Linked DNA regions of Homo sapiens. The protein of the gene in region 2 purifies or fractionates together with the protein of the main gene of each other region. This does not show direct contact. Each region holds a gene or a part of one and is shown on either strand. Other genes may lie near its edges.

Region 1 (4,062 bases), on a different chromosome or scaffold from region 2:
GCAAGGCTTTGTCTCCAAATATTTGCAAATAACCTACTCGCATCCTCCCATATGCTTTAAGTCATCCCTGGATTACTTATGATACCTAATACAATGTAAATGCTGTATGAACAGTTGTCATGCTGTACTTTTTTTTTTTTTTTTTTTGAGACAGAGTCTTGCTTTGTTGCCCAGGCTAGAGTGCAGTGGCATGATCTCGGCTCACTGCAGCCTCCATCTCCCAGGTTCAGATGATTCTCCTGCCTCAGCCTCCCAAGTAGCTGGGATTACAGGCATACGCCACCACGTCCAGCTAAGTTTTGTGTCTTTAGTATAGACGGGATTTCACATTGTTGGCCAGGCTGGTCTCGAACTCCTGACCTCAGGTGATCTGCCCGCCTCAGCCTCCCAAAGTGCTAGGATTACAGGCGTGAGCCACCGTGCCCGGCCGTTATGCTGTACTTCTAAATTTTTCTATTTTTGGCCGGGCGCGGTGGCTCATGCCTATAATCCCAGAACTTTGGGAGGCCGAGGTGGGTGGATCATCTGAGGTCAGGAGTTTGAGACCAGCCTGGCCAACATGGTGAAACCCTGCCTCTACTAAAAATACAAAAATTAGTCAGGTGTGGTGGTGTGTACCTGTAGTCCCAGCTACTCAGAAGGCTGAGGCAGGAGAATCGCTTGAACCAGGAGGCAGAGTTTGCAGTGAGCCGAGATCGTGCCACTGCACTCCAGCCTGGGTGACAGAGTGAGACTCCATCTAAAAAGAAAAAATTGTATTTTTTATTTTCAATATTTTATTGTTTATATGTTTATTGTTTTCAATATTTTTCAATCTGTGGTTGGTTGAACTGAGGACATAGGGGAGGGACAACCGTGTAGGGAAAAACCTAGTGTACATACAGGGCTTGGTACTAGCCTCAGTCTTAGGCATTCACTGGGGGTCTTGGAATGTATCCCTCGGATAAAGAGGGCCTACTCTGTCTCATGTGTTACTGTTAATACACATATAGGGCGCTCAAAACTGTGTCCGTACTCAGAGGTTGAGGCAGGAAGACTGCTTGAGGCCAGCCTGGTCAACATAGCGAGACCTCATCTGGGATGGACAGAGGCCAAGACTGTCCCCACCTGGCTGTGTGGCCCCAGAGCTGTGACTTACCTCCATCTCAGTTTCTTCCTCTCTAGTGTGTGACAGCAACCGCGCACCTCATGAAGCTACACTCCGTCAGTGTGGCAGGAGGGGCGCGGCTGGCACAGAAGTGCTTGCTTGTGGTCACTGCTGTTAGGGTGACCACGGGAGTATCCCAAAGGCAGGGGTACCAGCTGCTGCCACCTGACTCCATTGACATGGGCGTCCCTCAGGACAGGTCTCCTTGCATTTGGCTCAAACACCCCCAGGCCAAGGCTCAACAAGCAGCAGAAGCACTGTAATATCTGCTAAGCAGGGCACCATCCACACTGCAGCACTGCAGCTTAATACCGAACCTACCGCTAAGTTCAGGGAAAGAGGCAAAACACCGAGTTCACCACACTTACTGAAAACCGAGTGGGTGTTTCATAAATACTTAGGAGACTGACTTAAACTAAACCCATCTTGATGGTACTCTTCCTGCCACTGCATAAACACTCTGGGAATGAAATACATTAGAGGAATTCTCCCACAATACTGCCTGCCTTACAAATGAGATTTAATTTTGAGACTGGCAGAACTGAAATCACAGTATTCTGCTGCTTGCACTTCAAATTCAATCACTCATTTTTCTGCACTGCTGCAGAATATTCCGGTGAAGGCCAGTAAGTGCGTAGGCCACCACAGCCTTATCCGTTCTTCTAGTACTGGGCATTTCCATTCTTCCCATTCTTCTGCAATGAAAGATTGTGCTGCAAGGAACACACAGCTGAACTCTTCCCATGTTTCCCCACATGAATTTTTTTTTTGGAGACAGTCTGGCTCTGTCACTCAGGCTGGAGTGCAGTGACACAATCTCGGCTCACTGCAGCCTCCACCCCCTGGGCTCAAGTGATCCTCCCACCTCAGCCTCCCGAGTAGTTGGGACTACAGACACATACTGCCAAACTTGGCTTTTTTTTTTTTTTTTTTTTTTTGAGATGGAGTTTCACTCTTGCTGCCCAGGCTGGAGTGCAATGGTGCAATCTCGGTTCAGTGCAACTTCCGCCTCCGGGGTTCAAGCGATTCTTCTGCCTCAGCCTCCTGAGTAGCTGGGATTACAGGCATGCATCACCACGACTGGCTAATTTTGTATTTTTAGTAGAGATGGAGTTTCTTCATGTTGGTCAGGCTGGTCTCAAACTCCTGACCTCAGGTGATCCGCCTGCCTCAGCCTCCCAAAGTGCTGGGATTACAGGCATGAGCCACCGCACCCGGCCTTAATTATTTTTATTTTTAAATTTTTTGTAGACAAAGGGTTTTACCATGTTGCCCAGGCTGGTCTCAAACTCCTGGGCTCAAGTGATCCACCCACCTCAGCCTCACAAAGTGGTGGGATTACAGGTATGAGCCACCAAGCCTGGCTCTCACATGAATTCTTAGAGATGATTCATGAGCATCATTTGCCTGCTTCCTGGGGTATATGTAAATATGTGTAGCTAAATTCTTCTGGAAAAGGGGCTGAGGATTTTCTGCTGCCATCCACCTTTGATGTAACTCCGCCAGCACTGAGTCTCAAGACTGAAAACATTCCCCCATGAACTGAGTAAGCATGAAATGATGACTTCTTGTTGCATATGCACTGTAGGCTGGGCGCGGTGGCTCATGCCTGTAATCCCACCACTTTGGGAGACTGAGATGAGAAGATCACTTGAGGTCAGGAGTTTGAGACCAGCCTGGTCAACATGGTGAAACTCCGTCTACGAAACACACACACACACACAAATTAGCCAGGTGTGGGGGCGGGTGCCTATAATCCCAGCTACTTGGAAGGCTGAGACAGGAGAATTGCTTGAACCCGGAGGTGGAGACTGCAGTGAGCCGAGATCACGCCACTGCACTCCAGCCTGGTGACAGAGTGAGACTCCATCTCAAAAAAATAAACAAATATGCCTTGTAAAATTTAGAGTTTGAACAATTTTTTCTTCTTGTAGTCACGTTATTTGTCTATAAATGTGTGTTATTTCTGAGTATTTGTGGCAGCTTTTCCTGAAGTCCAAATTGCCCATGTTGTTTTGCTGCCAGCACTTGCCCTTCCTCACATTTCCGGGACACTGATCCCTGCGCCTACCCAGCCCTCTGATCCTTTGCCAGCAGGCCTGCTCTTTTGCCTGCTTCCTCCCGTCTCCATGGCAGCAGCCAGGCTCTCTGCACAAGCCCCACCTCTGCCTCAGCTAATCCGGGCACCTCCCAACCGGGCTGGAGCCAGCCTGAGGAAAGGCAGCCTCCTCAGCTGACTGCTTCTTTGAACTTAGGAGGGATAAACAAGGAGGCAGAGAAAGCCAGTTTATAGCATGAGAAAGGTAAGGCAGTGGCCTAGGAGAAAAGTTTAAACATGAGGAAGAAATTGCTCTGGTCCTAGCGTCTGAGCACAGGCCATGACTGGGGCCAGCTCCACCCGCCTCTGGGTACTGAGCCACCTCCACATATGCTCAGCAAACTCTCCTGTCCAGAAACCTGGATCAAAAGGAGTCTTAACACAGACGTTTTCAGCTTTTATGTTCTTGAATATCTCTGTCTTCACCCTCAAGCTCAGGACGGTATCATTCCTCCAGATAATGGTGAGTCTGTTATATCCTATTAGATGCTCTACAGCTGCGAACTATGTATCTAACTCTTTAATCCATAAACAATCGACTTTCTTTTTTTATTTTTTTGAGACAGAGTCTCGCTCTGTCACCCAGGCTGGAGTGCAGTGGCGCAATCTCGGCTCACCGCAACCTCCGCCTCCTGGGTTCAAGTGATTCTCCTGCCTCAGTCTCCTGAGTAGCTGGGATTACAGGCAAGTGCCACCACGACCAGCTAATTTTTGTATTTTTAGTAGAGACGGGGTTTCACCATGTTGATCAGGCTGGTCTCGAACTCCTGACCTTGTGATTCCCCTGCCTCAGCCTCCCAAAGTGCTGGGATTACAG
Region 2 (3,500 bases):
AAGAACAGCTTCCAGAATTCAGGTAGTATTTTCTGCCCAATCTTCCAATATTGTGTTTGAAGTGGTTTGTTCATGACTAAATATAAAATGGAACACTGTGCAGGAGGCATTGTCTCAGTCAGTCTTCAACCCTAGGAGGAAAAGATGATCATTTCTCTTGTAGAGAGGAGTAAGTGAAACCTAGCTGCCCTATAGCCAGGAAGGGACAGAACCTATATGAATCCAGAACACTCTAATCCTGACTCTCTTAACCACTTTACTCTTAGCTAGCAAAATCAAGAAGAGCAGCCAGAGCTCCCACAAACATATTCTTTCTTATTATAAGTTTGTTTCATAAAGAGGATTCCCCATATCCAGGAATCAGCCAGATCAGTACTGCCTCTACTGGATAGGTGGATTATTTGTACTTTGTCAGTGCCGATTTTAGGTAGTGTGATTGAGTTGAGTTGGAGATGATCACTCCAGGTTCTCTGCTCTTTTTCCAGCCCATTGCTAGCTGTGTCCTTTGCCACTTGTTGTGCTGTTCCGGGAGTTGCCATTCTGACCTTGGGGGTGAATCCACTCACAGGAGCCCTGGGGCTCTTCAACATTTTCCTGTATACCTGCTGCTACACACCACTGAAAAGGATCAGCATTGCCAACACATGGGTCGGAGCTGTGGTTGGGGCCATCCCGCCTGTCATGGGCTGGACAGCGGCCACGGGCAGCCTCGATGCTGGTAAGTGTCCCGCGATGTGGAGTCTCATATGAGCACACTCGGTCAAGGAGGCATTTCCTCCCTGAGCTGTAGCACTTGGTTCGATTCCATTCCATCCCACATTAATTCTTTTAGCAAATGTGCTGATGTGGCAGACTGAAATTTTGTGGACGCAGAGTAAAGAGAGACCGTGTCATCCTGGCTGGTGGGTGCACATGACATACACTTTCCCTTATAGGGAATGTCTGGGAGAAAAAAAAGGAAGCAGTGCTGCCTACCTGTGACTACAGGTGGATAAAGAAAGTACCTGAAGCTATGATGAAAATCACAAACGAAGCTAGGACTAACGAATTCATGGGGCGGGGAGAAGGTATCTGGAGCTGGCCTCCAGTCTCCCATCAAAGGGGTTTCGTCTCACGAGCCAGCCTCCTGTGTTCCCCTCTTATGAAAGGGCAGATTATTTTCATTAGTTTCTAATTTATTTTTATATGATTTGCTTAAATCGTTCATACTGTCTATAGTAAAACTATTGAAAGATTCCTACATTTTTTTGGTGGTATGTCACAACTAAATTTGTGGGGTGAAAATAGCTCATTTTTACCATGTGTAAGGGAAGTTTCACAGTCTAATTAGTCAAGTAATTAGTGTTTTTGACCGACACTTAGGAAGGAAGTGGTGAGGTTTCCTGCAATATATGTAAGTACATATTTTTCACATGAGAGATCAAAAGGCAGTTGACCATAAACCGTTACCCTGTAAGCCACATTTCTGAAACTTTTCATAAAAGCTCTTACACTCCAATTTGGCAAGCTTACAAATGCGATTACACCTTTACCATGATTGTCTCTTAGAATGGTTTTAATATCCTGTAAATGTCAGATTTTAATGAATCTACGAATACCATATTCTAAAACGTATGTGCTTGTGTGTTCTGTGATAAACCTAAAACCAGAGCCCCATCCATGTGGGAGGCAGTGTCAGCAAAGCGGTGGTGAGCAAGGAAGCCGGCGGCGCTGCCTGGATGGGGAGCCCGACCCCACCGCTCATGAGCTGTGCATCCTTCGCAGCTGAACTCAGCCTCTTTCTGCCACTGTCTCCTCATCTCCCACATGGGGCTAATAATCTTCTCCCCTCCTGGAGTCATTGTGAGGATGAAACAAATTGTTATTTGTAAGGTGCTGGACCATGGTGAGGGCTCAATTTGGGATCTGTATGCTGTTGTTATCATTCAGGAGTCCTCCTTCATACAGTGGAGGGACTGGCACAGATCAGGAAATGGAAGATTTTGTTTGGTTTGTAAGCTGAGCGATGCAGCCTTGTCCTCTGGCTGTTATTTTGAAGACTGAGGCGCCTGCAGCCTGGTGGGAAAGAGTGCTGGGGTCCTTTGGTGAGGTTTGCAGTGGATGAGGGAAGGGAGGGTTTAAAGCCTGGGCTTGGCATCCCTGGGCTAGATGACATCTGCGTGTTCATCCTGGTTTATAGTTGACCTTCACAGAGCACACCTGCACACCACCAGCCCTCCTGCTCCCGGTCACGTTCCTCTTCCTTAGTTCCACCTGGAGCTCACCTGACTTGACCCCAATTCCCTCTCCCCCTTAACGCAACTGTCCTCTTCCCTCTTATTTCCCTCAAACCTTTATAGTGATTGTGCAGACATTTGAGGTGGAGACCATGAAAGACAGTGTGGGACTTCCTAGGCTGTGCATGGGGAGTATCCCCCTTCCTCAAGGGTGTAGCCCCACTTCAGCACTTGGGTCCCTGCACTGAGCCACCTGCCTGTCTGATGGAGACACCCCCATCCCTGGCAGGGGTGCCTGAACTCTATTCAACTTCCTCAAACCTGGCACCAAGCAACAAGAACCTTCTCTTTCTGGGAAGACCCAGACAGGGCCAGAGTCAGGGCCAAGTATTACAGCCTTAGGGACAGGTAGTACAGGAGACTGGTATGGGCAGTTCAGTCCCAGGCCATGGAGAACTTGGTCACCACTGTTGTGCAGTGTTGTCCTAGGGCCCAGGTTCTTGCTGAGGGCTAGAGGCCCTTGTCACACTTCCGGGCAGTTTCCTCCTGAAGAGAGCCTCAGCATGTGCAGGCTGGAGTTGCCTCCCCGGAGGCTAGAGAAAAAGAGCTTTTCAAAAGTCCTCACTTAAGAGTGCACATTCAGACAAGAGCCCTTATTTGTTTAAGGATAGTCTGGATTTGGCTAAACTGCTAATAGTCATGTTTAAAATAATTTTTTTTCTTTTGAGATGGCGTCTCGCTCTGTCGCCCAGGCTGGAGTGCAGTGGTGCGATCTCGGCTCACTGCAACCTCCGCTTCCTGGGTTCAAGCGATTCTCCTGCTTCAGCCTCCTGCATAGCTGGGACTACAGGCGCCCGCCACCACGCCCAGCTAATTTTTATATTTTTAATAGAGACGGGGTTTCACCATATTGGCCAGGATGGTCTCTATCTCTTGACCTCGTGATCCGCCTGCCTCGGCCTCCCAAAGTGCTGGGATTACAGGCGTGAGCCACCGCGCCTGGCCTAAAATAAATTTTTTAATGTTGATTATAGTCTTTCTATAATACAGATTTAATCATTTGTATACAAACTCATTAATGATGGACAGCTAAGGGCAGCTCATCCCTTGTTTAGGTAGCAGAATGAAAGTACGTATTTGTCTTGGAAAATGAGACCCCTTTTCTACCCCAACAGAACCTGGTATAAAACAGAGCAGTCTGAAAGACATGTATAACCACAAAGAGAAGTTCCCTTGGCAGTTTTTGAGGTTGGCTTCTATTACAGTGTATCCTTTTACTTTAAA

Evidence for each region. The genes of interacting proteins can lie anywhere in the genome.
Region 1: the proteins of COX10 (region 2) and COA8 purify together in Homo sapiens (affinity purification with mass spectrometry; one large-scale study listed by BioGRID and IntAct). This does not show direct contact.

What each region holds. Positions count from the first base shown.
Region 1 is NC_000014.9:103,576,048-103,580,109, reverse strand, and holds part of COA8 (cytochrome c oxidase assembly factor 8), read right to left. Parts: intron 1-4,062. UniProt on the Homo sapiens protein: Required for cytochrome c complex (COX) IV assembly and function Protects COX assembly from oxidation-induced degradation, COX being the terminal component of the mitochondrial respiratory chain.
Region 2 is NC_000017.11:14,191,504-14,195,003, forward strand, and holds part of COX10 (protoheme IX farnesyltransferase, mitochondrial), read left to right. Parts: intron 1-485; coding exon 486-718; intron 719-3,500. UniProt on the Homo sapiens protein: Converts protoheme IX and farnesyl diphosphate to heme O.